Linked DNA regions of Homo sapiens. The protein of the gene in region 3 interacts with the protein of the main gene of each other region in a pairwise test. Each region holds a gene or a part of one and is shown on either strand. Other genes may lie near its edges. The genes, in order: KIR3DL1, UNG, RPS6KB1, CLEC3B and DPPA4.

Region 1 (7,050 bases), on a different chromosome or scaffold from region 3:
CTCTGCCTCTCAGTCTCTCTAGTTCTATTTGGAATCTCTGCAATCCATCCCCACATATTTATCTTTCTCTGTCTTTGTGTCCCTCCCTCAGGGTTCTGATTTTGGGGCTTTTCTCTCCTCCTTTCCATCATTCTCTCCATTCTGCCCTCTTTTCTTTCTTTTTATGTGTCTGTGAATCTCTTAATCTCCTTCTTCTGGCTCATTTTGTGTGTGTTTATGTCTTTGCTTTTTGGTGTCCCTGATTTTTCTCTGTGTCTCTCAGCGATCCTATCATATGTGGGATTATTTGGAATATGAGCCTCAGAATCCAGTCTGGGGACCCCAAGTTCACACAGCATACAGGGGTTGGTGTTCAGGGGCCATGATATCCTGGGATGATTACTCTCCATTGCATGGAAGGCAGAGGTGTCAGAATAAACACGGCATCTGTAGGTGGCACAAGGCCTGAGGCCACAGGGCCCAACTCAGGTCAGAAATATGGGTGTCCTTGGGTTCTTCTGGTAGGAACACTTTGTGGAGGTAAAACAGAAATGAAACTTCTAACCTGTGCCAGGTCTCTGAGCAAAGTCAGCATGGAAGGACACCTCTCTCTGGGACATGTCTGTCTGTCTGAGTGTCTCCTTTACCTCTTTCTCTCTTTTCTACCTCCCTGTATGGCCCCTGTGTCTGTCCTCTGTTATGACACCTGTTCTGTACTTATGTCTCCTGTTTCTCTGTCTCTGTTGGTACAGACCTCACCAAGTCACTCTCTTTCCATAAGAATCCCACACTTATCTTCCTCATGACCACCTGGGGGTTCCAAGTCCTGGATCATTCACTCTGTGTCCCAGTGACAATGAGAACAATGTCTAGACACTCTCACCTGTGACCACGATGTCCAGGGGATCACTGGGAGCTGACAACTGATAGGGGGTGTGAGTAACAGAACCGTAGCATCTGTAGGTCCCTGCAAGGGCAAGCATCATGGGACCGATGGAGAAATTGGCCTTGGAGACCCCATCATGGATCTGTCCAACGAGGCGTGAGGGGTCCTTAGAGATCCCCTCTTTGTGCAGAAAGAAGTGCTCAAACATGATATCTGACCAACATTGCAGGATGACTCTCTCTCCTGATTTCACCAGGGGACCTGGGTGGGCCAGGAGGGAAGGTTTTCTGTGGTTTCCTAGAAAGAGAAGTTGTGAGTTTAGAAGGCATCTCTCTTTATCATCCCATCCATGGCACCTGGAATGAGTGAGGGTTCCCCTCCCCGTGTCTGTCTCTCTCCTCCCTCTCTGCATCTCCGTGTCTTTTCTGTGCCCATATCCCCTGGTGCAGGTGCCTCCATCTGTCTTCCTCCCTCTTCTCTGTCCCTCTGTCTCCAGTAGCCCCTGACTCCCTTGCCACTGTGAAGACAGCCTCATCTCTTGGGCTGTTGTATCTGTTTCCCACTAATCTCTTTCCTGCTGTCTATGTGGGGGTGGAAGAGGACAGGCTGCATGTCCAGGCTCTTAGCAGCCTGAATCAATCTCTTTTGAACAAATCCCCAGTTCAAGTGATTCTCTTGCCTCAGCCTCCCCAGTCGTTGGATTACTCGTGCCCACCACCACATCTGGCTATCCTTGTTTGGTTTCCTAACTTGTCCTTGACCTGGGTTCCTGTGTTGGTTTCCTGTTGCTGCTGCAGAAAATTACCACAAACATGGCAGCGGGAGAGAACACACTGACCCCTTCCACTTCTGGAGACAGAAATTGGATCCAGTTCTCCCTGTGCTGAAATCAAGGTGTCTACAGGGCTGCGTTCCCTCTGGAGAATCAGCGAATCAGTTCTCTTGACTTCTCCAGCCCTTAGAGGCCACCTGCATTCTGTGACTAGTGGTCTTCCTCCACCTTCAAAGCCCGCAGTGGCTGATAGCGTCTCCCTCCCACTACACTGCTCTAATCCCCACTCCCCTCTTCCTCCACCTCTCATGTGGACCCTTGTGATTACACTGAGCCCAGTGGGACAGTCCAGGCTGTCTCCCCATCTCAAGGTCAACTCATCAACAACCTGAGCTCCACCTTCCCCTTCAGTCCCCTGCCCTGTAACATAAATAGTCACAGGCTCCAGGGATTACAATGTAGCCATCATTGGGGACAGTGATTCTTCCCACCACAGCACCCATTTCCCCTGTATTCAATCTCCCTTGACCCCAAATACAGTCAGGGCCTGGGTGATGGGACCCTGACGGACACCCCCACCAGAAGCTCTGGGATTCAGGAGGTGGGACAGTGAGAAGCCCAGACGGAAAGCCTCTGACCTGTGACCATGATCACCACGGGGTTGCTGGGTGCCGACCACCCAGTGGGGGAGTGTGGGTGTGAACCCCGACATGTGTAGTTCCCTGCATGTGCTGTGGTCACAGGGCTCATGTTGAAGCTCTCCTGGAATATTCTGCCATGGAAGATGGGAATGTGGATTCTGTCTTCTTTGTATAGCATGAAATTGTTAAACCTATGACGATAGTGACACCGAAGAGTCACGTGTCCTCCTCGAGGCACCACAGCGCTGGGCCAGGCAGACAGGAAGGGTTTGTCCTGACCACCTGGGGGAGAAGGAGGCACTGCCTTAGAGAGGAGGATGTGGAGCCGCCCCTCACTCCCAGTGCCCAGAAGATTCTCCCCATTTCCACTTTCTAAGGCTCCTACCACACCTGGGTGCCCAGGGCTACAGGAAGGACCCATCCTGCATAGACTTGGCGTCTCCCTACAACAAGTGTCAGCTGAGAACTTTGAGCAAGTTGCTGGAGAAGCAACTCTTACTAGATTTTAATACTGCAAAATTACTCATATAAAACAACACAAAGTAGACACGGCATGGAGGGCAAGTCCTATGTGAATGGAATATCAGCCAATTGATGAACTGAGCCCCCATCAGAGGATTTGGAATGTCAGGGCCATGGCTGTGGTTTCCTCACCTTTTCTGGTAGAAAGACCGCAGCCACACTGCAGCCCCTACCATCACGGAAACGCTGGAGGGTGTGAGTTACACCTTTGTCCTCAGAGGACCTGCTGTTCCTAGCACTGCTTCCCTCTCTTTCTCTGCTGCTGACACCACTTCCTCCCTGCACACCCATCTTGGAGCACCCTAGTCTCACCCCAGTCTTCACAGAGCTTGACTCAGGAAAGGGAATGAAAGGCCGGGGAAGGCAAGGTCAGAAATGTGGGCCGAGCATCCGAGGGTCCCCTCTTCCTAGTGTATGAGAGACTCCCCGACAGGACTTCCCTCCCATTTCAGGAAAATCCTCTTATGTGGGGAGATGACACCCTAAGGTTTGGGGAAGGACTCACCCATGTGTGGACCGGCCCTCTGGACCAAGAACAACCCTAGAAAGAAAGATCATGATGGACCATCCCTCTGCAGGCAAACCAGGGCACCCTGCTGCCCCCACTGGGCTGTGCGTCTTGGCAGCCAGGCCCTTGCTGGGCTGAAGGTAAACTCACCCTCGCTGCCTACCTGCCCCCAGGAACAAGGATCTCGGCTGTGCAGAGACTGAGCCTCCAGGCCCAGATCTCTACCTCCAGGCCTAGATCTACACAACAGGCCCAGATCTCCACTCCAGGTCCGTATCTCCACTCCAGGCCCATATCTCCTCTCCAGGCTGGTAAGTCCACTCCAGGCCCATATCTCCACTCCAGGCTCCTATCTCAACTCCAGGCTCATATATCCACTCCAGGCTCATATCTCCACTCCAGGCCCATATTTCCACTCCAGGCTTCTATCTCCTCTCCAGGCCCATATCTCCTTTCCAGGCTTGTATGTCTGCTCCAGGCCCGTATCTCCACCCCAGGCCCATATCTCCACTCCAGGATCATATCTCCACTCCAGGCCCAGATCTCCACTTCATGCCCTTAACTCCACCTCCGGGCCCATAACTCCACCTCTAGGCCCATATCTCCACTCCAGGCCCATATCTCCACTTCAGGCCCATATCTCTACTGCAGGCCCATAACTCCACCTCCAGGCCCATATCTCCACTCCAGGCCCATCGCTCCACTTCTAGGCCCATCACTCCACCTCTAGGCCCACATCTCCCCTCCAGGCCCATATCTCCCCTCCAGGCCCATCTCTCCACCCCAGGCACATATCTCCACCCCAGGCCCATATCTCCACTCCAGGCCCAGATCTCCACTCCAGGCACATATCTCCACCCCAGGCCCCTATCTCCACTCCAGGCCCAGATCTCCACTCCAGGCCCAGATCTCCACTTCAGGCCCATAACTCCACCTCTAGGCCCATAACTCCACCTCTAGGCCCATATCTTTACCTCCAGGTCCAGATCTCCATCCCCGCACTCCCTCCCTCGATTCCCTTCCAGGACTCACCAACACACGCCATGCTGACGACCATGAGCGACATGGTGCTGCCGGTGCAGACAGGCGGCTGCGCCCCAGCTCAGCTCAGCAGCGCACAGGATGTTATTTGGCGCCCTGCCCATGCAGTTTACATGTTGACCACATCATGGGAGGGTGACGTACGCAGGCTCTTTCTACCTTGCATGAGGCCCAGTGGGTGCTCGCTCAAGAGCGGAACATGGCTTCCTGGAAATTGCTCTCACTAGAATTGACACCTCGCGTCCTTCACTATGACCAACTCAAAACACGTCTCAGATCCAACCTCCCGAACACGAGATGCCTAAAATCTGTGCTAACATGAAAGACTTTTCATGTATTTTTATTGTTTTTATCTGAGATTCAAACTCTTCTTCCTGTGTAATATGCAAAATATCTAATAGGTATTATTAAGGTTTTCAGAGCAATTGTGACAATAAACCATTAGAATTTTTCATGATTGTATTTCTAGTATTACAGCAGAACCAGTTCAAATGATTTAAACTCCCAGGGAAGGATTATGCAATTATTTACAATCTTAGAATTGTACTTTATCAGCAAAAATCACAACATGTAAATTCTGGATTTTTGTAGATTTATCTAGAATTTGTCTCATGTCCCAAGATTCCAGAGTTCCAACTCATGGTTTGCTCTCTCTCTGTCTCTCTGCCTCCCTCATTTTAAATTTTACAGAAATATCCAGTAACATAATGCTATAGAAAATCAATTTCCCCAGCACTTTGGAAGCCGAGGTGAGTGATCAACCGAGGTCAGGAGTTTGAGACCAGCCTGGCCAATATAGTGAAACCATGTCTCTGCTAAAAATACAAAAATTAGCCATGCCTGGTAGCAGGCACTTGTAATGCCAGCTATTCAAGAGGCTGAGGCACGGAATCCCTTGAACCTGGGAGGCGGAAGTTGCAGTGAGCCGAGATCGTGCCACTGCACTCCAGCCTGGGCAACAGAGCGAGACTCTGCCTCAAGAAAAATAAAAAAAGCATAGCAAATAGCCTATAATAAATAACTAGAGGACTCCAGCTACCAAATTTTAGGGGTTGTATAAGGCTGCATAAAATGCAGCATTCTCAAGAGAGTGGACAGAGAGAGAGCCACTGAGCAGAAAACAGTGTCTAAAATACATCCGTGTACACACAGTCCCTTTATAGTTGACAAAGGCTGCCATGTGGTTTAAGGTGGAATAGAATGTCTTCTCAATAAATAACATGGGCCCAAGGGTTACACATAGAGAAAAATATATCTAAACGTATTCTCACACTATAAAACACTTGTTTATTTTATCTTGTTATTGTAATTTTTTTATGTTTTATATTTAAAATTGAGAAATAAAAATTATATACAGTCATCCCTCACTATTCGTGGGTGATTGGTTTCAGGATCTCCACTCAGATAGCACAATCTGCAGACGCTCAAGCCTCTTACATGAAATGGCACAGCATTTGCAAATAACCCATGCACATCCTCCTGTGTACATGAAATCATCCCTTGATTATTTATAATTCCTGATACAGCCTACACACAGCTTCATTTGTGTCCATTCAACATAGTTTTGCTTTTTGAAACTTTGTGGATTTTTTCTCTGAATATTTTTGATTTATATTTGGTTCAATAAACACCTGTAAATCCCACAGATACAGAGGACCGACTGTATATTTATAGTATGAAAGATGATGTGTTGATATGTGTCCCCGTGGAGATGAGACTAACAAGGCCTATGACTCTACAAATGTTTCATCATGGAATGACTCTGCCAGCTTTCCAGGTCTGCAGAGAGTAAGAATATCACTTGTTCATGTGATTCACGATCCTTGGAACCTCTTATGTGCTGCATCTTTGGATGGAAATTGGAGTCTCAGAGACAAATCAGGCTCCACCCTGCTTCCAGAAGCTCCAAGTCCAGGGGTGAGAACCCAGTGGAGAACAGTTGGAGTTATTTGGACATGGTAATGATAACACTGGAAACTTTCAGCCAAAAAAAGAGTCACCTAAAGAATGAAGGCAGACATGTTTATTTGAAGAGGAGAGAACTACACTGAAATCAAAAAAATTTTATAAGGTTTGCTGATGCCAGAAGGCTGAAAAATAGTCTGAGGAAAGGTGGAACAGCACGAGGGAAGGTGGAACAGCACGTGTCTAAGTGCCGTGTTAAGAGAGAGCCTCTTGTATGTTTGGAATTGTGAGTTCCTCAGTGTGATTGCAGCCTCAAGTAGACTAGGAAGTAAGCCAGTTAGGTTGGAGAGGTGGGCAGGGGTCAAGTGAAATAGAGAATTGTGGGCTAAGCAAAGGAGTGTGTTTTCTCTGCAGCAGGCAGTGGGGACCTTAGACATTGGTAAGCAAGAGACAGGCACCAGATTTGTGGTGTGAGGAAGAGTGATGCTCTAAGATGGAGACTCACGCCTTCAGATTCCAGCTGCTGGTACATTAGAGCTGGCAAGCTGGGTTTGAGACAGGGCTGTTGTCTCCCTAGAAGATCCCATCAAGGCCTGACTGTGGTGCTCATGGGCAGGAGACAACGCTCTGGGCTCAGCATTTGGAAGTTCTATACACACGCTGGTATCTGTTGAGGGTCTCTTGCTCCTCTGAGAAGGGCCAGTGATTTTTCTCTGTGTGAAAATGCAGTGATCCAACTGTGCGTATGTCACCTCCTGAGGGTCTTGTTCATCAGAGTCCTGGAGAGAGGGAAATC
Region 2 (6,287 bases), on a different chromosome or scaffold from region 3:
ACAGCTGGGCAAAACAAAGCTTCTTTTACAATGAAGTGTTTAGTACCTCATGTAACTCATTGAACACTGTACTGAAAGTGAAAAATAGAACGGGGCCAGTCACGGTGGCTTACACCTGTAATCCCAGTGCTTTGGGAGGCCAAGGTAGGACAACTGCATGGGACCAAGAGTTTACAACCAACTGAGGCAACATAGCGAGACCCCATCTCTACAAAAAAATTAAAAAGTTAGCCAAGTGTGATGGCATGCACCTGCAGTCCTAGCTACACAGAAGACTGAGGTGGCAGGATCACTTGAGCCCAGGAGTTCGAGGCTGCAAAAAGCTATAATTGTGCCACTGCACTCCAGCCTGGGTGACAGAGCAAGATCTTTTTTTTTAATTTTTTATTTTTTGAGATGGGGTCTTACTCTGTCACCCAGGCTAGAGTGTAGTGGCATGACTGTGGCCCACTGTAGCCTCCACCTCCTAGGCTCAAGTTACTCTCCCACCTCAGCCTCCTGAGTACCTGGGACCACAGGTGCGTGCCACTACACCAGGCTAATTTTTTGTGTTTTTTAGAGACAAGGTCTCACTATGTTGCCCAGGCTGTTCTCAAACCCCTGAGCTCAAGTGATCCGCCACCCTGGCCTCTCAAAGTGTTGGGATTACAGGCGTGAGCCACTGCTCCCAGCCAAGAGACCCTGTCTCTTAAAGAAAGAAAAAAAAACAACGTGTGAGTGCTCAAAGTATGGTTATACACCATTGTAAAGTCGAAAAAAATCAGGTCAAACTTCATAAGCCAGGGACCAGTTGTACCTACACAAATAGGTACATATAAAGGGACTGACACACTGCTTATGTCAGCTAAAACCTAGTATACAATTCAGTGTTACAGAACTGGCTAAATGTATTTTTCTAAAGTTCTTACAATGTAAAACCACATAACTCCTAGAAAAACATGCGAAAGATAAATATACTGATGAGATGACCTCCAAAATTTACCAAGTGAACAAAATGCAAAATAATTTCATTTTTTAAAAACTTTAGAAAAATACCCAAGACACTGTATTTAGTAGTTCCTTTAAGAGAAAGAGTGGAAGCCATTTACTTTCCATTTTGTGCCTTTCTGAACTCTCTGAATAGTCTTACAGCTCCTAAGAAGGAAGAATTAAAAAACAAAAACAAAAACAAAAAAATCTCGCCACAAAAATGGAATAGTTGGCCGGGCGTGGTGGCTCACACCTGTAATCCCAGCACTTTGGGAGGCTGAGGTAGGTGGATCACCTGAGGTCAGGAGTTCAAGACCAGCCTGACCAACATGAAGAAACTCCGTCTCTACTAAAAATACAAAATTAGCTGGATGTGGTGGTACATGCCTGTAATCCCAGCTACTCAGGAGGCTGAGGCAGGAGAATCACTTGAACCCAGGAGGGGGAGGCTGCAGTGAACTGAGATCACGCCATTGCACTCCAGCCTGGGCAACAAGAGTGAAACTGTCTCAGAAAAAAAAAAAAAAAAAAAAAAAAGAGGAATAGTCAGTGGCCAGGTGTGGTAGCTCACGCCTGTAATCCCAGCACTTTGGGAGGCCGAGGCAGGAGGATCGTTTAAGTCCAGGAGTTCAAGAGCCAGCCTGGGCAACGTGGTGAAACCCTGTCTCCACAAAAAAAAATACAAAAATTAGCCAGGTGTGGTGGCGCACGCCTGTGGTCCCTGCTACTCAGGTGACTAAGGTGGGAGGATTGCTTGAGCCTGGGAGGTTGAGGCCGCAGTGAGTTGAGATCAAGCCAGTGCATTCCAGCCTGGGTGACAGAGCTAGACCCTGTTTCAAAAGAAAAAAAGCAATAGTCATACATCACCTAATGACAGGGATGCATTCTGAGAAGTGTGTTGTTAGGCAATTTCACTGCTATCCGTACACCACAGGGCATCTTTACACAAACCCAAATGGGATAACCTACCACTACACACCTAGGCTATATAGTGTAGCTTATTGCTCCTGGTCTACAAACCTGTGTAGCATGTTACTGTACTAAATACTATAGGCAACTGTGACACAATGGTAGGCATTTGTGTATCTAAACATAGAAAAGATGCAGTAAAAATATTTTTTATATATATATATATACACATATATATATACGTATATATATATGTGTATATATATATATGTTTTTTTTTTGAGATAGAGTCTCACTCTGTTGCCAGGCTGGAGTGCAGTGGCATGATCTCAGCTAACTGCAACCTCTGCCTCCCAAGTAGCTGGGACTACAGGCACACGCCGCCACACCTGGCTAATTTTTTGTATTTTAGTAGAGACAGGGTTTCACTATGTTGCCCAGGCTGGTCTCAAACTCCTGAGCTCAGACAATCCACTCGCCTCGGCCACCCAAAGTGCTGGGATAACAGGTATGAGCCACCACACCCGGCCAGAATATTATAATCTTATGGGACCATCGTCATATATACAGTTTATGACTGAAACATCATTATGTGGCAAATGACTACTTTGATTTTTTTAAAATATCAACTATAGTTATTTTAACAGGGAGATATAGACCATTTTTGTTTTCCTCTTCTTTTCTGTATATAAAAACTAACGAACAAATCACTGTTTCTCAAAACACTCTTGCCTTCAAGGGGCTCAGTCCAGGAGGGGCGATGAGGGGTGAGGACTAAAGCCAGGCAATCCAGTGTGGTTAAGAGTACAGAGCCTGGAGCCAGACTGCCCGGGGTCGAGGCCTACCTCTACCCTCAGTAGCTGTACCACAGAGAAGTTGCTGCAACTCTAAGCTGCTTCAGTTTTCATCTGTAGACTGGGAATAACAATACCGCCCAGCTTATGAAGTTACTGTGACCAATCAAATGAGGATCACAGGGGCTGAGTGTGATAAGAAGTCATGCACACCAAATGCTGAACACACACGCAAGCAGCACAGGCCCCTGTAAATGTCAGCCCTGCAGAGCTCTAAAGAATCCCAGAAGAAAATGACCTCTACACTGTAGGCAGAGAAAGCAGGATATGCAAAGGCAGGGAAGTGGGGCACCGTGAAAAAGTAAAGGGGAATGGGTCAGCCTAGGGATCGGAGTGCAAAGAGGGATAGAGTTAAGTCTGGGAGGCCGATTGGGGGCCACCCCTCTACCCCCCTGAAATCAGATCTTCAGCCTAAGGCAAGGCCTTCCAGGGAGAAAGCATCAGAACCCTCCAGGCAAGATCAGGTGAGGGCCTGAATGAAGGCAAAGGTGGTCAGGCAGGGGTAGATTTGGAGGGGGAAGAAAGAACACAGATATGAATGACTGACTGACTGGGAAGGTGGAAAAAAAGGACAGAAGAGGGGAGAAAGAGAGGTAGGCAGGTGTCAGTAATAGATCTGGCTGGACAACTGGGCAGATGATGGTGCTTTTTGCTGCTAGGGAGTGCAGAGGAGGAAGTTTAGTGAAGCATGGATGAGAAAAGGAGAAACTTCGTTTGGAAAATGTTGAATTTGGCATGTTCATGGGGCAGTAGTAACAAGGCACTCTATAGATCAGAAGAGACACTGGGCTGGAGATATGCAATTTGGCTTTAATGACCAAGCTACTTTAACAACTGTTTACTTTCAGACCAAACCATGATTAAAGATTACCAATATACTGCGGAAGAGCAACACTGGCCGTAAACCTCCCTAAGGGATAGAGATTAGCAATTACTCTCACGCACACTTCTTACATACCTAGATGATCACATCTTAGCAGTTCATACCAGTCAGATCTTAGGTCACTCATACAAGTGTATGCCTACCTCAAAGCCTTTCTGAGAGTTAAGTAAGATTCTGCATGCAAAGTACTCAACCTGGTCGGGTGCGGTGGCTTACATCTGTAATCCTAGCACTTTGGGAGACCAAGATGGGAGGATCGCTTGAGGTCAGGAGTTCAAGACCAGCCTTGTCAACATGGTGAAACCCAGTCTCTACTAAAAATAAAAAATATTAGCTGGGTGTGGTGGCAGGCAACTGTAATCCTAGCTACTCAGGAGGCTGAGGCAGGAGAAGTGCTTGAACCCAGGAGGCGAAGTTGCAGTGAGCCGAGATCATGCCACTGCACTCCAGCCTGGGTGACAGAAAGACTCCATCTCAAAAAACAAAAGTGCTCAACCTAGTACCCACACAAGGTAGGGGTTAAATATACGTGCACATTTCTGATACCCCCGTTACCTCCTGCTGATACACCAAAAACTATTGTCAGGTTACCTCTGCTAAGCCCTTGCCTTCGATCATTGAAGCATTTACTCTATAATTTCTCCCCCACCCAATGTCTCTCCCATTTGCCAGGGATGAACACACCCCTGGCTCGTCTCCTTCCCACCCCCTATCTCTCCCTCCTCCACTCTGCGGCTCTCCATCAAGCCTCCATCTCTAGTCCATCACGGTTCTCCTGGAGAAAGATGATGGTGACTCATGCCTGAAGGGCAGCAGTGGCGAATGAGAAGCAGTAGACTGGGGTGTTTTGGGAGGCAGAGTTGATGGGATTTACTGATGGGATGGAGGATTCAAGGATGACTTTTAGGTCTCTGATTTCCACAACCAGGTGTAGAAGTGCTTCAGTGAGTGAAGGGAAAGAGGGAGGTAGCAGATAGGGGGAAGATGTAGGGAGGGGAGCCACTGGTTTGGTCGTGTTGGGTATCTGCAATTAGACCTTGGGGTTAATAATGATCACCGATAGGCCGGGTGTGGTGGCTCATGCCTGTAATCCTAGCACTTTGGAGGTTGAGGAGGACAGATCGCTTGAGGTCAGGAGTTCAAAACCAGCCTGGCCAACATGGTGAAACCCTGTCTCTACTAAAAAATAAAAAAAAATCAGCCGGGTGTGGTGGCGGGCGCCTGTAGTCCCAGCTACTCGGGAGGCTGAGGCAGAATCACTTAAACCCAGCAGGCGGAGGTTGCAGTGAGCCAAAATCATACCACTGCACTACAGCCTGGGCAACAGAGCGAGACTCCATCAAAAAACAAAAAACCCAGAAACAAAACAATAATGATCACTGATAGTATTTTCATGGGCAAGTTAAATTTGTGATTGAGTGGAATTCTTTGTGTTTTCTATATGTTCCCAAATTTCTTGGAAGCCAGAAACATGCCTCATCCATCACTTGTTAAGTGAATGGTACCCAGGGACTTGTATCTTGTAGACACCAAGTTCATGCCTACAGCACCAACTGCATTCAGTCACAAGTTGGCCAGTTGCTTTGCTTTCCTCATACACAACTCATCACCCCTATAATTTGTCCAAATTCTTCTCAGTTTTCAATGGGAAACCCTTATAACAGGCCTAAGGGAAAATAAAAGTTATTTTATAACATGGATTTTCCAGGACCAAACACAGCAGGGACTCCTAGAATTCTTTACATTGTTTTTATAGTGTTAAAAAAAAAAGAAAAAAAAGAAAGAAAACAAAACATACCCTATCAATGGCACTGCCCTTCTTCTGAGCATAAGAGCCCCAGAGCAAGAAAACAAGGCCATTCGAGTTCTGATTTAGCCAGGACACAACTGCATCAGTGAACTGCTCCCAGCCTCGCTCCTTATGAGAGTTGGCTTGATGGGCACGAACCGTGAGGACAGCGTTGAGAAGGAGAACACCTATACACATGAGAGAAACAGGTTAAATGTAGGCTCAGGCAAATCAGCCCAATACCCAGCAACAGGAGCTAAATCCATGATGAAACCAATGCTTGATGGGATCCAGTGTAGCAAGCTGTGCTTCCCTGCTGCAGCCGGCATAATGGCAGCAGCCACTACCATCAACAATGGAGTCGGGGCTGGGCGTGGTGGCTTATGCCTGTAATCCCAGCACTTTGGGAAGCCGAGTCGGGCGGATCACCTGAGGTCAGGAGTTCGAGACCAGCCTGGCCAACATGGTGAAACCCTGTCTCTACTAAAAATACATTAAAAAATTAGCCAGCTATGGTGGCTCATGCCTGTGGTCCCAGCTACTCAGGAGGCTGAGGCATGAGAATCGCCTGAACCTGGGAGGCAGAGGTTGCAGTAAGCTGAGATTGCACCACTGCACTCTAGCCTGGGCAACAGAGTGAGACTCGGTCTCAAAAAAAAAAAAAAAAAAAAAATCTAGCAGTCGCTGGCTTACCTTGCTTGGCCCACCCAGATAAATCTCCATGGCCAGGATGAACAAAATCCTCTATGTCTGTAGACAACTCTTTATAAATGTTCTCCAAACTGAAAGCAAGCCACAAGAAAAACAAAAAACAGAATCTTAAGCATAATTTTGAAAGCTCAGTAACGTCTAAGACATATGTGAAAAGGTTAGAAGTTACAGC
Region 3 (6,287 bases):
GGACTTAGTTTTAAAACCTATAATTTTTAGGATCTGTTTTTCATTTTTAAGGGGCTGATGTCTTTTAATTATGGTTAGAAGGAAAGCACAAACTCTCTCATTAGAAGTGGGTTGGAAATAAATATTGTTTTATTTATAATGTTTTTTCTTTTTCTTTACAGGAGGAGAACTATTTATGCAGTTAGAAAGAGAGGGAATATTTATGGAAGACACTGCCTGGTAAGTGAACTTTTTGTGGTTGCATAGATTCAGGTAATTACAAGCAAAGCCCCATTCCCACTATGGGCAGCCACATGATTCAGTAAATTGAGCTGGAGCCAGTCACTCACTCAGGACCTCAAGGGGGAGAAGCAGTTTTGGGACTGGGCAGCTATGGAGGTCACATCATTCCTTTGCCCTTAGGCTTGAGTGGAACGCTCTTCACACCAGTTGTTCCTAACAGAACCATTCTCATTGCGGCTTTCTTTCCTTGAATTGGTAAGCTGCCTGCCTTGGCTGTGGGTGAGTGTGGTTTCCCAGTGAACCTTTATGTGTGGAACAATGGAAATTATCAGAAATCATCCCTTTTTTTTTAGGCTTTCTATTTCTCAAGGTACAGTCTTAGGGAGGTGATAAACCTGGGCATATCATCTGTAGATTGATTATGTAGTCAGGGTGGGATTTACCCTCCTATTTCTAAACATGTCATCTGCTTCAAATTAAAAATATGCACATCCTTTTGTGAAGCAACAATATTGGGTCACAATAAATCAGTTTATCCTACACATTAATTTAATAGAAAACAACACTTAAATGTTTTTTTCTACCTTGATTACCAAAACTGCATTCCATTGTTTAATTTCAGGCCTTTTCTAACAAAGAAGCTGCATTTAAGAGCCTTAGGGATGAAGTGCCCTTTTTTGGAGGAGGCTCACTGAGCCGTGTTGGAGGCTGTGTTTGTGGTCGTGCTGGCTGTGAAACTGCCTCAGTCCTCTAGGACACACCCTCTCCATCCTGGAGTAATCTGCAGGATTGCAACATTGTTATGCAGCCAGTATTGCAGTGCCTTGTGCTTTTCGAATCCAGACAGGGTTGATTCAGCCCTTTATTCTTTTGAGGTAGATAAATTTGGGTGTCACACAGTTTATAGTTGTGGGCTGGCTGGCAGGTGGGAGGGCAGATACTGTGGGCCTCAGCTGTCTATAAATATGTAGCTGTATTAAGTAAGGGATGAGTGGGCTTCTAAGGGTCAGGTTATAAGATACCTTTTGAAATCAAGATGTGATCTCTGAGAATAACAAAGTTCCTATTTCCTATGGGATTTTAAAGTTGGGTGTGGATGGGAGAAATTTGCTTGAAATGAATGGCTATTAGCTTAATTCCTACACAGACAGAACAAAACATGACCAATGGCAGTTTAGCATATTCTGGACATCTTTGCAATTTTAGCAATATATTCTAATGGCAAAATAAAGCACTTTATAGTTTCACTAAAATGAGTGAAACATAAATGTCCCCATGCCTTTTGGCAGCATCCTATGCCATCTCTTTTTCCAATACATCCCCCTACCCCACTAATTTGGTCTTTGGTGCATGTCTGTTTCTTTCAAGGAATTTTGCTCCATACGTAAACTGCTTTGGATAGATTACACTCTTTTTAATTTTATTAAATCACTTTTGTTTCCAGCTTTTACTTGGCAGAAATCTCCATGGCTTTGGGGCATTTACATCAAAAGGGGATCATCTACAGAGACCTGAAGCCGGAGAATATCATGCTTAATCACCAAGGTGGAGACATACCGTAAACAATTCTATAGTAAATAATCATCTTAAAATCCTCCCACATAGGTCGTGGCCATTTTCAAAGCCCCAAATTCATCTCTCTATTTTGTATATTTCCTCCCTCAGAATTCATGGCATCATAGTACTTGCTGATATTTTAAGTCTTTAGGTAATTACGCTTGGTGAGAGTAAAAGAAGTTGAGGATAATAGTCGCTCAACTGCCTTTTTTAGTTTAATCCTTACTCTTTATAGTTTTTCATGTTTTTGGAATCTTTACATCAAATGTTGTATAATGTTTTAGACTGTAAAAGCCAGTCTAAACATTAATTTTGGCTTGTTACTTAAATTGAAAAGTGAATCTCAATTATATAAGTTGAGTTTTAATAATGAAAATATGTAAATATTGGCTGGGCACAGTGGCTGACACCTGTAATCCCAGCACTTTGGGAGGCTAAGGTGGGTGGATCACCTGAGGTCAGGAGTTCAAGACGCCTGGCCAACATGGTGAAACCCCATCTCTACAAAAATACAAAAAAAAAAAAAAATTAGCTGGGCATGATGGTGGGTGCCTGTAATCCCAGCTACTCAGGAGGCTGAGGTGGGAGAATCGCCTGAACCCAGGAGGCGAAAGTTGCAGTGAGCCAAGATCGCGACATTATACTCCAGCCTGAGTGAAAAGAGCGAGACTCCGTCTCAAAAAAAAAGAAAATATGTGAATATTAGAAGCTATGCTTCTTACAGTAGGTTTTATTAATGCTGGGAAAAGGATTGAAATTGAACCAAAGTATTTGATAAAACTTTGGAAATATGATGTTTAGTAGGCATCAGGTTACTTTTTTTTTTTTTTTTTTGAGATGGGGGTCTCACTCTGTCATCCAGGCTAGAGTATGGTGGCATGATTACAGCTCACTGCAACCTCCGCCTCCCAGGCTCAAGTGATCCTTCCACCCCGGCCCCTCAAGTAGCTGGGGCCACTGTGGCACACCACCACGCCTGACTAATTTTTGGTATTTTTTGTAGAAATGGGGTTTCATCATGTTGCCCAGGGTGGTCTCAAACTCCTGAGCTCAATTGATCTGCCTGCCTTGGCCTCCCAAATTGCTGGGATTACAGGCATAACCCACCTTCCCCCCAGCCAGAATCAGTTTATTCTTGCTGTTTGTTTGTAACAACAAACATAAACATCAGAGAGACTGATAATCTATACAACTATAGATATAGCACAGTGAGCCTTGACTACAACTGCATGCTGCTAAAGACAGCTCAATTTATGCTAATCTGGGCTGTAGGTAGACTTGGCAATTCACTCGTACCCCAAAGGAGCAACCAGCTGACCCAGGGTATCTAGAAGGTGGTAGCAGCTGCTAATCCTTAGATGTCTACAGAATAATCCATGAGGTAGTTAATTGTTTCAAACTCTTAGAAAATGATGTATGAACAACTGAGGCTCATATAAACATTCCAGATTATACTCCTCCACCCACCTTTTTTTTTTTTTTAAGGAGAAATGATATACTTAACTGAATATATCATGGGAATCAGTGTCTCTTCCTTCCTCTCATCAACACCTCCTCACTCCCCAAAACGTGGATTCTGATCTGAATTATAAGTCACAGGATAGAATAGGGGAGCGATAGAATAGTTAACTTCTTTGATTTATAAGGTTGAGTGTATCAGATGGTTCTGTGAAAATAAAGGCCATACTTCTTCTGTATCAGAGTGTAGTATATATTTACATTTGAATCAATAGGTCATTGTGCCTTTTCTGTGAAATGAACCTCAAATACTAGAGTCCCTGAGATTGTTGAACCACTTGTTATGACAGTCCAGTAAAGAAAGCTAAACTTGAACTGAAATGATCTTTGTGTAAGGTGGTAAGTTTTTTACTTTCTGGATCAGTGATGATTGATTCATACTATCTAGCAATTTTCTTTCTTTCCCCTAATTGGTAGCATTGGGCAGAATGAGCTACCTTGTTATAATGAGTTTCTGAGACCATTTTAAGGACTCTTCACAGTTCACTGTGATAAAAGCTATATATTTGAAGTACTGTCTCACACCTTTGTTCAAAAGGTACAGAGTATGTTTATTGGGGTCTGTGTACGTAAACTAGACTTCATAAAACAGTTTTCCCAGGATTTTTCTTTTTCAGGATGGTAGAGAATTTTGTATATACTTAAAGCTAGAGCCTTAAACAGGTTATTTCACTTTTTTCTCTATCTTTATTTTCTCTTTACTAGATAGATTGTATCATTGGCAAAAGGTGACTTTGCCCTAGCCTTAAACAGTTAGCATCCCATTTTATGGATGGTACCTTGTTCTTGACATCTGCAAGAAAATTTGAGGCAAGAAAAGTTAAATGGAAGGATAGATTAAAGTATTATGTGACATGTTCAAACACTGCACATACTTATAATTCGGAGAATAATCATGCTGTAATCTTTCATTGTAGGTCATGTGAAACTAACAGACTTTGGACTATGCAAAGAATCTATTCATGATGGAACAGTCACACACACATTTTGTGGAACAATAGAATACATGTGAGCTACATGTTAAACATAATTGGTTTGGGGGTAATAGCTAATTTTACCTGTTTTAAGGAATAGTATCTGTTTTCTGTACCCTCATTGACTCTGTATATTGTTTTTAAAATTCTAATTCAGATGATATGCAAATGGGTGAATTTTTAAGCATATTATTTTCCTCATTGTAGGGCCCCTGAAATCTTGATGAGAAGTGGCCACAATCGTGCTGTGGATTGGTGGAGTTTGGGAGCATTAATGTATGACATGCTGACTGGAGCAGTAGGTGCACAGTTAAAAGCTGCATGTATTATTGGTCTGTGCTGAGTCACTATAGCAAGAGACCTGTCCTGTGCTTTCTGAACATGTTACCAGTGGAGTTTTCAAAGCCCAAAGATTTGTTATTAGCAGTTTAACACTAATAATGCTGTATGATTATATGGGATCCCATACTTTCCGAAACATTTTCTTTTAAATGATCTATGTCATGGCAGGCCTGTGAAATAGATGTTGAATAGATAATGCCCTTATTTTATAAATGGAGAAATTGAAGCATAAAATCACATAGCTCACTTATCACACAGAAAGTTAATGGTGGAAACACAGGCTTCCTTCCAGGACACTGCTACTTCCTCTGTCCTGTTGCTTAAAAACTGCACGTCTGCCGGCCACAGTGGTGCATGCCTGTAGCCTAAGCTACTCAGGAGGCTGAGGTGGGAGGATCATTTGAGCTAAGGATTATTAATAGAATCTAGCCTTGACAACATAGTTGAGACCCTGTCTGTAAAACAAAATAAAGGTCTTTAGCAGTTAGCCCATTTCACAGCATACATTTCTGATCTCCATGTATAACTAATTTAGGAAATGGATAATATTATTCAAAATTTGTTTCTTATATGCTAATATTTTTCTCTCCCTGCTAATATTTTTCACTTGTCTTCTACTCTTAGCCCCCATTCACTGGGGAGAATAGAAAGAAAACAATTGACAAAATCCTCAAATGTAAACTCAATTTGCCTCCCTACCTCACACAAGAAGCCAGAGATCTGCTTAAAAAGGTAAGGTTCTTAAATGGTCACTGACACTACAAGATTCAATGACTAGGATTTAACTAGATAGAATTTAATGTATATTTTGAATAAAGAGTCATATATAAATATTGAACAAAAAAGTCTTCAATTTTTGAAGGCGAAGTACAGATTTGTTTAAAGACTTTCTTTTCATATTCTTTTTTTAAATTTTTTTTTTTTGAGACAGGGTCTTGCCCTGTCACCCAGGCTAGAGTGCAGTGGTGCGATCTTGGCTCACTGCAACCTCAGTCTCCCAGGTTCAAGCGATTCTTCCGCCTCAGCCTCTCAAGTAGCTGGGATTACAGGCACCCGCCACCACGCCCGGCTAATTTTTGTATTTTTAGTAGAGACAGGGTTTCACCGTGTTGGTCAGTCTGGTCTGGAACTCCTGACCTCAGGTGATCCACCTGCCCTGGCCTCCCAAAGTGCTAAGTGCTGGGATTACAGACCCTTAAACAATATTAAGTAGTAATTAGTAAACTATATTTTCTTTTCTTTTCTTTTCTTTTTTTTCTGAGATGGAGTCTTGCTCTGTCGTCCAGGCTGGAGTGCAATGGCATGATCTTGGCTCTCACTGCAACCTCCACCTCCCAGGTTCAAGTGATTCTCCTGCCTCAGTCTCCCTAGTAGCTGGGATTACAGGTGTTCACCACCACGCCAGGCTAATTTTTGTATTTTTAGTAGAGAAGGGGTTTCACCATGTTGGCCAACCTCGAACTCCCAACCTCAGGTGATCCACCTGCCTCAGCCTCCCAAAGTGCTGGGATTACAGGCATGAGCCACTGTGCCTGGCCAATAAACTATATTTTCTCAAGCCAAAGTAGACAAGCACAGTCTAAAAAGGAAAAAAAAAAATCAGTTTGACTAAGGTTCTTTATCCAAGCTTTTTTTCCTCTTTAAAGCTGCTGAAAAGAAATGCTGCTTCTCGTC
Region 4 (6,287 bases), on a different chromosome or scaffold from region 3:
CCAAGTCAGCTGTCCTACCTCGTGCTATCCTACAGCTTAGCCAAGCGGCCTTCATTGCCTTTCCTTCCTGCTGGTAACACTGACGTGCTACCTAGACTTTTGTTGGGGATGAAGGATTCACTGCCCTGGCTGCCAGGAATGCTGCAGGAAGAAAGTCCTCAGCTTTCAGCCTCCTGCAGGGACTGCCTCAGCAGAAGACAGCCATCTCTTCCAAGGCCGTGCCCCTCCCTAGAGCAGCCTACACCCAAGACTGACCCATAAGCCCTCTTGCCCCGACTCAGGACAGTGCCGAAGGGTCATCCCGTCATCAGGGCTCCTGAAGTCAGCTGAGGCTTTCGTGGCACCACAGTACAGCTCGACTTCTCCTTCTGCCCACTCCTGCTTCCTTCCATCCCTTCCCTAGCACAGGGGTTGATCCTGAGGGTATCTCCTGATAAGTCTCCTGTGGGTTAAACTCCATCTCAGAGTTGCTTCCTAGGACCCTCACCTGAACCTCCCTCCAACACATAGGTAGTCCTCAGTCAATGCTACTTCTCGTGATACTATCATTGCTGCCAACATTTTGTTGCTCTGGTCTATTCATGATCCTGTCGATTTATGCTAGTCCTCCACACCTCTGCTCCTGCCCTGCCATCTGCTTGGAATCAACCCTCTTTATCTTCTCTGATTCCTACACAGCTTTCAAGGGCTCAAGTGATTCCATGAATATATTGAGGTTCCCAGGGAGCAGGGCCCTGGCTGCATCACCTCTGCCTCCTTGTGCCTGGCAGAGATGTACCAGGTGGGAACCTCCCATGTGTATGCTGGTTGGAGGAGGGAAAGGTTGCCCCCTGATTCCTTCAACTCTGGTTAGGTCAACAGAGCTCTGCAATGCTTTGGGTGGGTTTATTGAAAAGGTGATCTTTGGGTTGTGAGGACAATGAACAGGAGAAGGCCCCAAGAAGCCCAGCAGCTTCCTAGAAATCAGCAGACATGGGGGCTTTCATATGTCATGCTTTGGGCCTCCATATGTCATGAACTTTTTTCAGGGAGGTCCCCACCTCATTACCTCACCCCAGGTGGCAGTTGATGCCTGGGTTACATTGACTTTGCACAGCACAGAGCTTAGACATGAGAGAGACCTTAGAGTTTACCCTGCCTACCTTACAGATGAGGAAACTGAGGCTCAGAGTGGCACTGGGCTCATTCTAAACATACCCGCTGTGCCAGGCACTGTTGCCTCCAAATCCCTTCTCTCTTGTCCACCTCCACTATAGAGGCTGGAAAAGCTACATTCTTGCATTCTCAGATGTTCTTAAAGCTGCAGGTGGCCATATGATAGATTTCTTGTCAATGAGATGGAAGTGGAAGACTACGTTCCCTATAAATGAGACAGATGTGGTTGGGCTACTCTTCCTCCTTCTTGCCTTGAATGCACTCATGATGCCTGGAGTTGGGGCAGCCATCTGAAGACCATGAGGTGAAACTTCTGAACAAAAACTTATAACTACCTACTTGCAGACTTACTTTTTGTTTAAGCCACTGATAGGTTTCCTATTACATGAAGTCAAAAACACCTCTGGAGATGCTCCCTTTCTCGAGCACTCTCTTCCTACCTGCCATGCCAAGCAAGCTGTCCAAAGTTACATGTTTGTCCTTCCTTCAACAGAGATTGACTGAGTGTTGCTATGTGGCAGGCACTATGCTGGGCAGGGTAGTGGAAGAGACAAGGGCAATGAAAAGCAAACATGGCCCTTGTGTTCTCAGGGCTTACTATAGTCTAGTGGAGGCAGCAGACACAAATCAGGAAATGAGTGTATCATTACAGACTGCAGTCAGTGTGATAAAAGAAAGGACACTGTTCTGGGAGAGCTTATAACTGAGGAGCTGATTGAGATGAGGGATTAGTGACTCCTGAGAAGATAATGCTGGAGGCATTTATTAGGTGGATCTTGGGGGAGCAATTCAGGTTGCCCAAACAGCACATGCAAAGGCCCTGTGGTGGGAGTGCAGAAGGATGGCAGTGTGAATGCTGAAGGAAAGCATATGAATGGGAGGGAGTGTGTAAAACCATCCGGTGAGAAGGCTGTTGGGGGTTTCTGAGGAGGCAGGCGGGGAAGGGAAGGCCTTGCAGATGGATGGGCCTTGGTCACAAAAGCAACAGGTAAGAGAGTGGCTGTGGACACAGGGTGGTTTATAGATTTGCTGAGGAGTCAAGGTGATTTCCCAGCTGATAACTCGAGGGGCAGCATAGCAGAGCTAAGTGAGGCTCTGCTCCTTTCGGCTGTCACAAGGTCCTTCTCGGTGGAAAATAAGGGTGAGGATGTAGTAACAGGACCACTGCACGGGTGTGCTGTGAATGAGTTAACGTGCATCAAGCATCAAGAACAGTGCCAGAATGTAGTGGGCTCACATGTAAATAGTCATCAGTATTGTGAGTCTGCATCAAGCATCAAGAACAGTGCCAGAATGTAGTGGGCTCACATGTAAATAGTCATCAGTATTGTGAGTCTGTGTTCTCCATAGAATGGAAGGTGAGGTCATATAAAGGTAGGTAAATCGGAGGTATGTGGAAAATGCAGACTATATGACAGGAACATGGGGAGTGAGAAACAATAGGCTGCCAGGTATGCTGGCCAGAGGGCATGACCTTACCATGCGCCTGGGCCCTGTTCTTGGTGATTCTGTGCACCCTCCCTCAGCTGGCTAGTGCAGAGCCAGGAACACCAAGGCCCAGCTTGGCACTGGGCAGCCTGCCTCCATTCAACTCTTGCTCTTCCACGAGTCAACTAACCAACGAGGTGAGTATGAGCCAGGTTCAGGACCTGTCTATGCCTCAGTTGCTGCTGACACATCTTTAAAATGGAGCTGACATTTCATGGAGCTGACAGCTCATCTTTAAAATGGAGCTGACAAATCCCACCTCAGCAGAGTTACGATTAAGAGAGACAGGGTCAGCAAAGCTGCTGACACACAGGAGTGTGGAGCTCTCTGGGGCTGCAGAGGCCAGCTGAGTGAGGGGCTCCTGGGAGCTTTGCTAGGGTGGGCCACTACCTCTGCCCCATCGAGCGCTCCAGGGTCACTTCTGGTGGGCAGTAGTGGATTCTTGTTGGAGAATTTTTTGTCCTCTTGGGACATCCCCACTTCCACACCACCCAGCTGTGGCCAGAGATTTGGCCGTACACATCCAGGTGAGTTTTGCAGACACGTGTCAGGGGATCTCCCCAAGAGAAAGAGGTGGGGCTCCCTGAACCTGGTGCCTTCACCCATAGGCCTGGACTAATGGAGCCAGGACCCTGATGCTGAACGGAGGCGAGAAGAGCATTGCTGGCTGCTGGCCTGGGCCCTTCTCTCAGACGCTCCTGCCCAGAGAGGCTACTGCCTGCACTCACCCGTCTGCAGGGCCTGCTGCTCCTTCAGCAGGGCCACCTCCTGGGCCAGGGTGTCCAGACGGCTCTTGAGCTCCTCAAACATCTTTGTGTTCACAACATCTGAAGCAGGAGGAAATATGTCAGGGTGGGGCAGGGACTGAGCAGGAAGGATCCTACCTTAGCTGCAGAGGGATGAGAGGAAAAGACTCCCCTCAACCTTGATATCTTGGGAAACTTTCTCTCTCTCTATCCTTGCTGGTGGTAGTCTAATTAACCACTTGTGACTTCTGCCAGGGGGCCCATCCTTCACTTGCTCCTGTGCTGCATTTGTTTGGGATTGTTGCTGGGGATCAGATGGGGCTGGGATTAGCAGAGGCAGGGGTGAGGGTGTAGGCACAGGCTTCAGTGATCCCCCACCACCCAGCTACCTTTTCAGCTCCAGGGAAGAACAGCACAGGAAGCACAGCAGGAGCCCTCAAGAAGCCCCCAGGTTCACTTCCCCAGGCTGGAGGAATGCGACACAGACCAGCAGGCACTCCAGCCTGGGGCACGCATATGCAGGGCTTGGAGGTGCCACAGACACGGGTGGCCTGGGCGAGCTGCTCAGCCTCTCTGGATTTGGTTCCCTCATGTATGAAGTGGATGATGACAGCCCCACCTCCTAGGACTCTGGAGAAGACTAAGAGAACTGAAACGCAGAGCTGCCTACCTCAGTGCTTGGCTGAGTGTGTGCCCATCACAGCTACTAATAAGATGAGGGCAGAAGGAACCCAGGTTTTCCACTCTTACAGAGGAGGCCAGGCTCTGGGCTAAGCCGTTCTACATGTCACCCCATGTGATGCTCATAATCAACCCTATGACACAGGTAACGTGTCATTCTGTACCACCAGCATTTCACCATGAGGAAACCCAGGCTGCCCTAAACCAACTGGCCGAGGATGGCAGAGCCCCAGCTGGCAGGGCTGGCCTGGAACCCAGGTGCACATGGCTCTGAAGCCATGCTCTTCCCCACCTTCCCCATGGCACACAAACGGATTCCTAACAGGAGCTGTCCTGCTGGCAGCCAGTCATGTAAGAGTCAGCAGGGGAAGGCGGGGAAGCATATTTCTATGTGTGTGTAAGTTGAGGGTGCCGGGAAGCATATTTCTATGTGTGTGTAAGTTTAGAGCTCCTGGGGCGGACCCTGGTCTTTCTGAAACACCAGGGCTTCAGGAAAGGCTGCACTCAGCTTGGGGAAGTGGGTGGGGAAACACTTTAATGGTCCATTTGGCTGTGTCTGCATACATTCCACACTCACAAAGAGTGAGATCAGAGCCTTCGTCCACCCATAAGGTGCCTTTGCAGAAGAATCACAGGCAAGACACATGGTTGTGTATATAGAAATTAGCGATGTAACTTACCAAACTGGAGCAAAAACACCCTGATGAGCAAGGCAAAAAAAGGGAGAGTTTGGGGCTGGCAAACCAGCCTGAGGTCATGTGTGCCTCACACAGAGACTGCCTCCACCAGTTATAGCAGCACTGTACCCAGTCACGTGATGTACCAGCATAGGGTGCCATGTGAGGCTGTGCAAGGGGGCACTGAAGAAGGGCATTCTGCTGAGGGACACATGAAGGCCCATTTGTCTCCTAAGCCTTGCCCTGGCTAGAGTGGGTCAGACCAGAAAAAGAGATGCCTTTCTATAATTTGTCAGTTTAGAGGAGGTACCTTTTGTAATTTGCACCAAGGTGCCCATATGTGCAAAGTTTCCTCCAGGGACTGTCCAAGGTACAGGAAGCTACTCTCATTAGCTCCACCTGAGGAAGCTGTGGGAGTAGGTGTCTCTACGGCCCTGGGCAGAGTCAGGAGGCCTTTGTGCTGGCCCACTCTCTGAGCCTCAGGTTCCTTCTGCGTGATGTTAGAATGGATGCCCTCCAGGTTCCCCCAGTTCCCTGTTCTAAAGGCCTGTGACTCCTATGAGGCCATCCTTCCCTCCGGAGCTTCCCTGCCAGGTGTGACCATGTGGCCCCAAGAACAGATGAGCTCCCAGAAGTACTCTAGGCTCCCCGCTTCTCACCCACCCTGAGGGCCAGGACAAGGACTTAGCATATGCTGGCATTCCCTTCCTTTGCCAGTCCTGCCACTTGCTCTCCCCCTCTTGGCCCTGGCACCAACTGGTCTCCTCTGGCATGACCGTCCCTTCTTTGGACTTTCTCCCGTACTTTTGGGCACCAGCCCTGCAACTAGATTGCCCCTGAGATTCTCATTCCTGGCTGCTCCTAGGAATCCCTGAAGACCTGTGGAAAAGGCAGATGCTAAACTCACCAAGATCCCTAAACCAGCATTTCCAGGGGTGGGGCCCAAGCACCTGAATTCTTAACTTTTATTTTATTTATTGATTTATTTTTGAGACGGAGTCTCACTTACTCTGTCACCCAGGCTGGAGTGCAGTGGTGCAATCTCGGCCCATTGCAACCTCCACCTCCCAGGTTCAAGCAATTCTCCTGCCTCAGCCTCCTGAGTAGCTGGGACTACACGTGTACACCATCACACTCAGCTAATTTTTGTATTTTTAGTAGAGACAGGGTTTCACCATGTTGGCCAGACTTGTCTTGAACTCCTGGCCTCAAGCGATCCTCCCACCTTGGCCTCCTAAAGTGCTGAGATTACAGGCTTGAGCCACCACGCCTGGCCAAGGCACCTGGATTCTAATGTATCTCCCAGATGATGTTGATGCCTGAGTGAGAACCACCATGGTTCATGTCTTAAGAGCAGAGACGGTGTTTCTCTGCTGTGTGTCCAGCATATAGACTGGTGCCTACGTGGAGAAAGAGCTCTATAAGTGCCTGCCATGTTGGTGGGCGGGAGACTGCCATGGGTTTCAGCGAGAGGCAGGGCCTGGGTGGCTGTTCTGTTGGCCTGTAGCCCTGGAACTCCAGGGGCCCCTTCTATGGAGAC
Region 5 (4,207 bases), on a different chromosome or scaffold from region 3:
CTGTACCTAGCTACTCAGGAGGCTGAGGCAGGAGAATCATTTGAACCCAGGAGGCGGAGATTGCACTGAACTGAGATTGCACCACTGCACTCCAGCCTGGGCAACAGTGAGACACTGTCTCAAAATACAACAAAAAAAAGCTGCTGCTGAAGTCATGTCTATTTTAGAAAAGTAGTATGAATGAGTTTTTCTACATATTAACTACAATTTATGGTAATTTGTGAAATGTTTTTCCATTTTTAAATGTAAGAGTCTCTATCTCCACTCACAAAGCAACAGGCACTGCTAGGGGTCTTAGGCTAACATCTGCCACCCCACCAGTCTGCATGGCCCATAAACAGGTGCAGAGGACCAGAGTTCACCTGTCAGCAGCACCGCAGAATCCAACTCTCCAGCTTTTCTGCCATTAATTACCATAGATGTGGCCTTTTTCCTGATATTCTATTCCCATTGGAGGCTTTTTATTAAGACCTTGTTCCTATAAAGCAAATAAAGTATTTGTTTTTAAAAAGAATGAAGAAATATTAAAAATAGCCAAGAAACCCGCTGCTGGAATGCTGTTGAAATTGCCCTTACAACTTTAGGATCATAGGTAGCAAGCCTGTGATCCTGTCATTCAAGAATGAAGATCATCAGCCAAGTTATCATGCCTCTGTAATATATTCCCTGACTTGTGCCAACCATGGACAGGAGGCCTTGGAGGGGCTCTTTTCATCACTTTCCCAAAAACCTAAGTATGTCATTAAAGGACTACCCAAAGTGACCTCCTCAGTTCTCTTCAACTTGCTTGGCATAGAGAGATTATCAAAACACTCACAGCAAAAAGTAGGATATCCCAAAGAAGGAAAAGCCAATCACACATTCACATACTTCCTCCTGTGGGAGATGGTCTTGCTACGTTTCCCAGGCTGAGAAATTACCGATCTCTCCTTTCCATCTAGTCGATTCTTCCCTTAACTTAAGGAACCTCTTCTTTGATATTCATCATGTTATTCTAGGTGTTTACATGCCCACCATCCCTGTTAAGACTGTAGGCTACTTAAAGGAAGAGGTTTTTTGCTAGTCATTATTTCTGTGTAGAGCATACACTTTGAATATAGTAATTATATAATGTTTGTTGCTCCCAGAATTCTGTGTCTCCAGGTAGAAGCATTAAACCCTGACACATAAATGCTTTCTTTTTCCTGGGGATAAACTTAACTGAGTAATAATTTTCTTGAAACTCTTTACTGACAATTTGAGCTTGAAATACCTGGCTATTTAAGATTAATGTATATCTTAACTTTCTGCAATTGAAAATCCGGCACCCACTTTTAGTTTGTAGAAAAGCATCAGGTAATTACCTGTGAACACATTTGGGGCACAACATATTGTCTTCAAGGTGCGGGGGTGGAAAATTGGAGGCAGGAAGCAAGAAGAGTGCACTCACTCTCCCTTCTTGCTTTTCTGGAACCCAGGCTTGACCAGCATGAAACTGCAGGTGAACCCAACCATCTGTGTCTGCAGGGAGACTTTTCCCATGGACCACACACCACCTGACACCTGGCAATGGCAAAGGAAAGAGACAGGTACCCGCACACCAGGATGACATACTGATGTAAGACTGCATTATGGCCCATCACCCTTGATTGACCAGCTCCAAGATGTGAACCCTGAAATCCTAACTTAACCTCTTCTCTATTCTGTTCTCCTTTAGAAAAGCATACAAGCTGGGCGCAGTGGCTCACGCTTGTAATCCCAGCACTTTGGGAGGCCGAGGCGGGTGGATCACGAGGTCAGGAGATCGAGACCATCCTGGCTAACACAGTGAAACCCCGTTTCTACTAAAAATACAAAAAATTAGCCAGGCGTGGTGGCGGGGGCCTGTAGTCCCAGCTACTCAGGAGGCTGAGGCAGGAGAATGGCGTGAACCCGGGAGGCGGTGCTTGCAGTGAGCCAAGATTGCACCACTGCACTCCAGCCTGGGTGACAGAGCGAGACTCCATATCAAAAGCAAAACAAAACAAAAAGCATACAAGACAGTTCCTGTTAAAACTTAAAAATCTAGTTGGAAGTAGTATAGTTGTAGGTGGGCAGATGGTAGAAAGACTAACCCAGAGTGTCTGGAAAGGGCTTCATGAAATAAGCTCAGGGGTCTCAGCTCTTAACACACATTGGATTATGCTAAGCAGTTTGTCTTCTTTTGTTGTACTTTCTGTAATTCTTCCAACATATAAGGTAGGTATTACCCATTTTACAATGAAAACGCTGGGAAATATTTTAAATAACTTATTAATGCCATTCTGGGGCTCAGTTGCAGGCAATTAATTTTAGACCTTGCCTTTAATTTAAATTGCTTAAAGGGTAAAGAAAGAAAACCAGACTGCTATCCCCTTCTGATGCCATCAATAATTTAGAGCAGTGGTTCTCAAACTGTGGTCCCCAGACCAGCATCCTTAGTACTGCCTGGGAAACTGTTAGAGATGCAAACTCTTGCCAGGTACGGTGGCTCACGCCTGTAATCCCAGCACTTTGGGAGGCCAAGGTGGGAGGATCATCTGAGGTCGGGAGTTCGAGACCAGCCTGACCAACATGGAGAAACCCCATCTCTACTAAAAAGACAACATTAGCCGGGCATGGTGGCACATGCCTGTAATCCCAGCTACTCAGGAAGGCTGAGGCAGGAGAATTGCTTGAACCTGGGAGGTGGAGGTTGCGGTGAGCTGAGATCGCGCCACTGCACTCTAGCCTGGGCAACAAGGGAGAAACTGTCTCAAAAAAAAAAAAAAAAAAAAAAAAAAAAAAAGGAAAAAAAAAAAAGAAATGCAAATAAATGCTCAGGTCCTGCCCTAGACCTGCACCAGAAACTCTGTGGGCAGGGTCCAGGAATCACCGGCCCTCAAAGGGATTTTGATATACCCTAAAATGTACCAGTGATTAATATCTACTAAGCTTATTTCCCCATTGGACCAGAATAAGCTCTTCATGTTGCGCTTACCAGAGGCCTCTTGTGGAGATTCCACTGCCTCTGGTGTCCTCGCCCTGGCTGAAATTCTCGCCCAGGAGGCCAGCAAAGCCTCTGGGGCAGAAGTTGTCACCACAACTGTATTAACTCCCTCAAGGAGAGCAGTGGAATTTTCCAGGGCAGGCGGCTCCCCCACAGGAGGAAGAGCCACTTCAGGAGGATGTGTCTCAGAACTTTGCAGGGACGTTTCCCCCTTTTCCACCTTTAATTTTTTTTGCAATGATTTCCGGATTTTGGCCTCTTTTGCTGTGCTAGGAAAATCCTACAAAAAGGGTTAAATAATAAAGATAAAAATACAGATTAAAATTCTAACAAAAATGGCCTAAGGAGCTCTTGATCAAATACAAAGTTTCACTTAGGAGGACTAGGTTCAAGAGATCTATTGTACAAGTTGGTAACTATACATAGTTAATAACAATGTACTGTCTTCTTGAAAATTGCTCAGTTGGCCACCCAGTGGCTCAGGTCTGTAATCCCAGCACTTTGGGAGGCCAAGGTGGGTGAAACACTTGAGGTCAGGAGTTCGAGACCAGCCTGGCCAACATGGTGAAATCCCGTCTCTACTAAAAATACAAAAATTATCCAGGCATGGTGGCTCATGCTTGTAATCTCAGCTACTCCAGGGGCTGAGACAGGGGCATCACTTGAACCAGGGAGGCAGAGGTTGCAGCCTGAACTGCAGCCTAAGTGACAGAGGGAGACTCTGTCTCAAAAAAAAAAAAAAAAAAAAAAAAGAAAGAAAAGAAAAGAAAAGAAATGAAAAGAAAAAAATAGAAAAAAAGAAAATTGCTGGCCAGGCACAGTGGTTCACGCCTGTAATCCCAGCACTTTGGGAGGCCGAAGTGGGTGGATCACCTGAGGCAGGCGCCTGTAATCCGAGCTACTCTGGAGGCTGAGGCAGGAGAATTGCTTGAACCCGGGAAGTGAAGGTTGCAGTGAGCCGAGATGGTGCCACTGCACTCCAGCCTGGGTGACAGTGCAAGACTCTGTCTCAAAAAAAAAAAAAAAAAAAAAAAAGAAAGAAAGAAAGAAAAAAAAGAGAAGTAGAGATGGGAAATATTGTTCTTTCTTAGAACTAGGGGTGGAGGAACAAGGTGAGGCTAAGACAGTTCCTTTACTCACTTTTGAGGCTACAATAGGTAATTAGGATAAGCATTGAAACGTCCATCCTTTAAAAAGTTACCTTTTGATTTGGGTAGGCAA

The links.
Region 1: the proteins of RPS6KB1 (region 3) and KIR3DL1 interact in a two-hybrid assay, tested with the Homo sapiens proteins (one large-scale study listed by BioGRID and IntAct).
Region 2: the proteins of RPS6KB1 (region 3) and UNG interact in binary tests that used the Homo sapiens proteins (3 or more experiments, as listed by UniProt).
Region 4: the proteins of RPS6KB1 (region 3) and CLEC3B interact in a two-hybrid assay, tested with the Homo sapiens proteins (one large-scale study listed by BioGRID and IntAct).
Region 5: the proteins of RPS6KB1 (region 3) and DPPA4 interact in a two-hybrid assay, tested with the Homo sapiens proteins (one large-scale study listed by BioGRID and IntAct).

What each region holds. Positions count from the first base shown.
Region 1 is NC_000019.10:54,813,825-54,820,874, reverse strand, and holds the start of KIR3DL1 (killer cell immunoglobulin-like receptor 3DL1 isoform 1 precursor), read right to left. Parts: upstream 4,408-7,050; 5' UTR 4,375-4,407; coding exon 4,341-4,374; intron 3,342-4,340; coding exon 3,306-3,341; intron 2,561-3,305; coding exon 2,276-2,560; intron 1,163-2,275; coding exon 863-1,162; intron 1-862. Other genes in the region: KIR2DL4 (killer cell immunoglobulin-like receptor 2DL4 isoform c precursor), read right to left, coding at 6,764-7,033. UniProt on the Homo sapiens protein: Receptor on natural killer (NK) cells for HLA Bw4 allele. Inhibits the activity of NK cells thus preventing cell lysis.
Region 2 is NC_000012.12:109,102,738-109,109,024, reverse strand, and holds part of UNG (uracil-DNA glycosylase), read right to left. Parts: intron 6,187-6,287; coding exon 6,098-6,186; intron 5,593-6,097; coding exon 5,414-5,592; intron 1-5,413. UniProt on the Homo sapiens protein: Uracil-DNA glycosylase that hydrolyzes the N-glycosidic bond between uracil and deoxyribose in single- and double-stranded DNA (ssDNA and dsDNA) to release a free uracil residue and form an abasic (apurinic/apyrimidinic; AP) site.
Region 3 is NC_000017.11:59,929,956-59,936,242, forward strand, and holds part of RPS6KB1 (ribosomal protein S6 kinase beta-1), read left to right. Parts: intron 1-161; coding exon 162-219; intron 220-402; coding exon of another isoform or gene 403-439; exon of another isoform or gene 440-477; intron 478-844; coding exon of another isoform or gene 845-917; exon of another isoform or gene 918-1,097; intron 1,098-1,666; coding exon 1,667-1,767; intron 1,768-4,214; coding exon 4,215-4,305; intron 4,306-4,478; coding exon 4,479-4,569; exon of another isoform or gene 4,570-4,573; intron 4,574-5,237; coding exon 5,238-5,345; intron 5,346-6,259; coding exon 6,260-6,287. UniProt on the Homo sapiens protein: Serine/threonine-protein kinase that acts downstream of mTOR signaling in response to growth factors and nutrients to promote cell proliferation, cell growth and cell cycle progression.
Region 4 is NC_000003.12:45,028,010-45,034,296, reverse strand, and holds part of CLEC3B (tetranectin), read right to left. Parts: intron 4,155-6,287; exon of another isoform or gene 4,060-4,154; intron 3,471-4,059; coding exon 3,372-3,470; intron 1-3,371. UniProt on the Homo sapiens protein: Tetranectin binds to plasminogen and to isolated kringle 4. May be involved in the packaging of molecules destined for exocytosis. Plays a role in retinal function.
Region 5 is NC_000003.12:109,327,547-109,331,753, forward strand, and holds part of DPPA4 (developmental pluripotency-associated protein 4), read right to left. Parts: coding exon 4,188-4,207; intron 3,267-4,187; coding exon 2,978-3,266; intron 1,543-2,977; coding exon 1,344-1,542; intron 479-1,343; coding exon 442-478; 3' UTR 1-441. UniProt on the Homo sapiens protein: May be involved in the maintenance of active epigenetic status of target genes. May inhibit differentiation of embryonic cells into a primitive ectoderm lineage.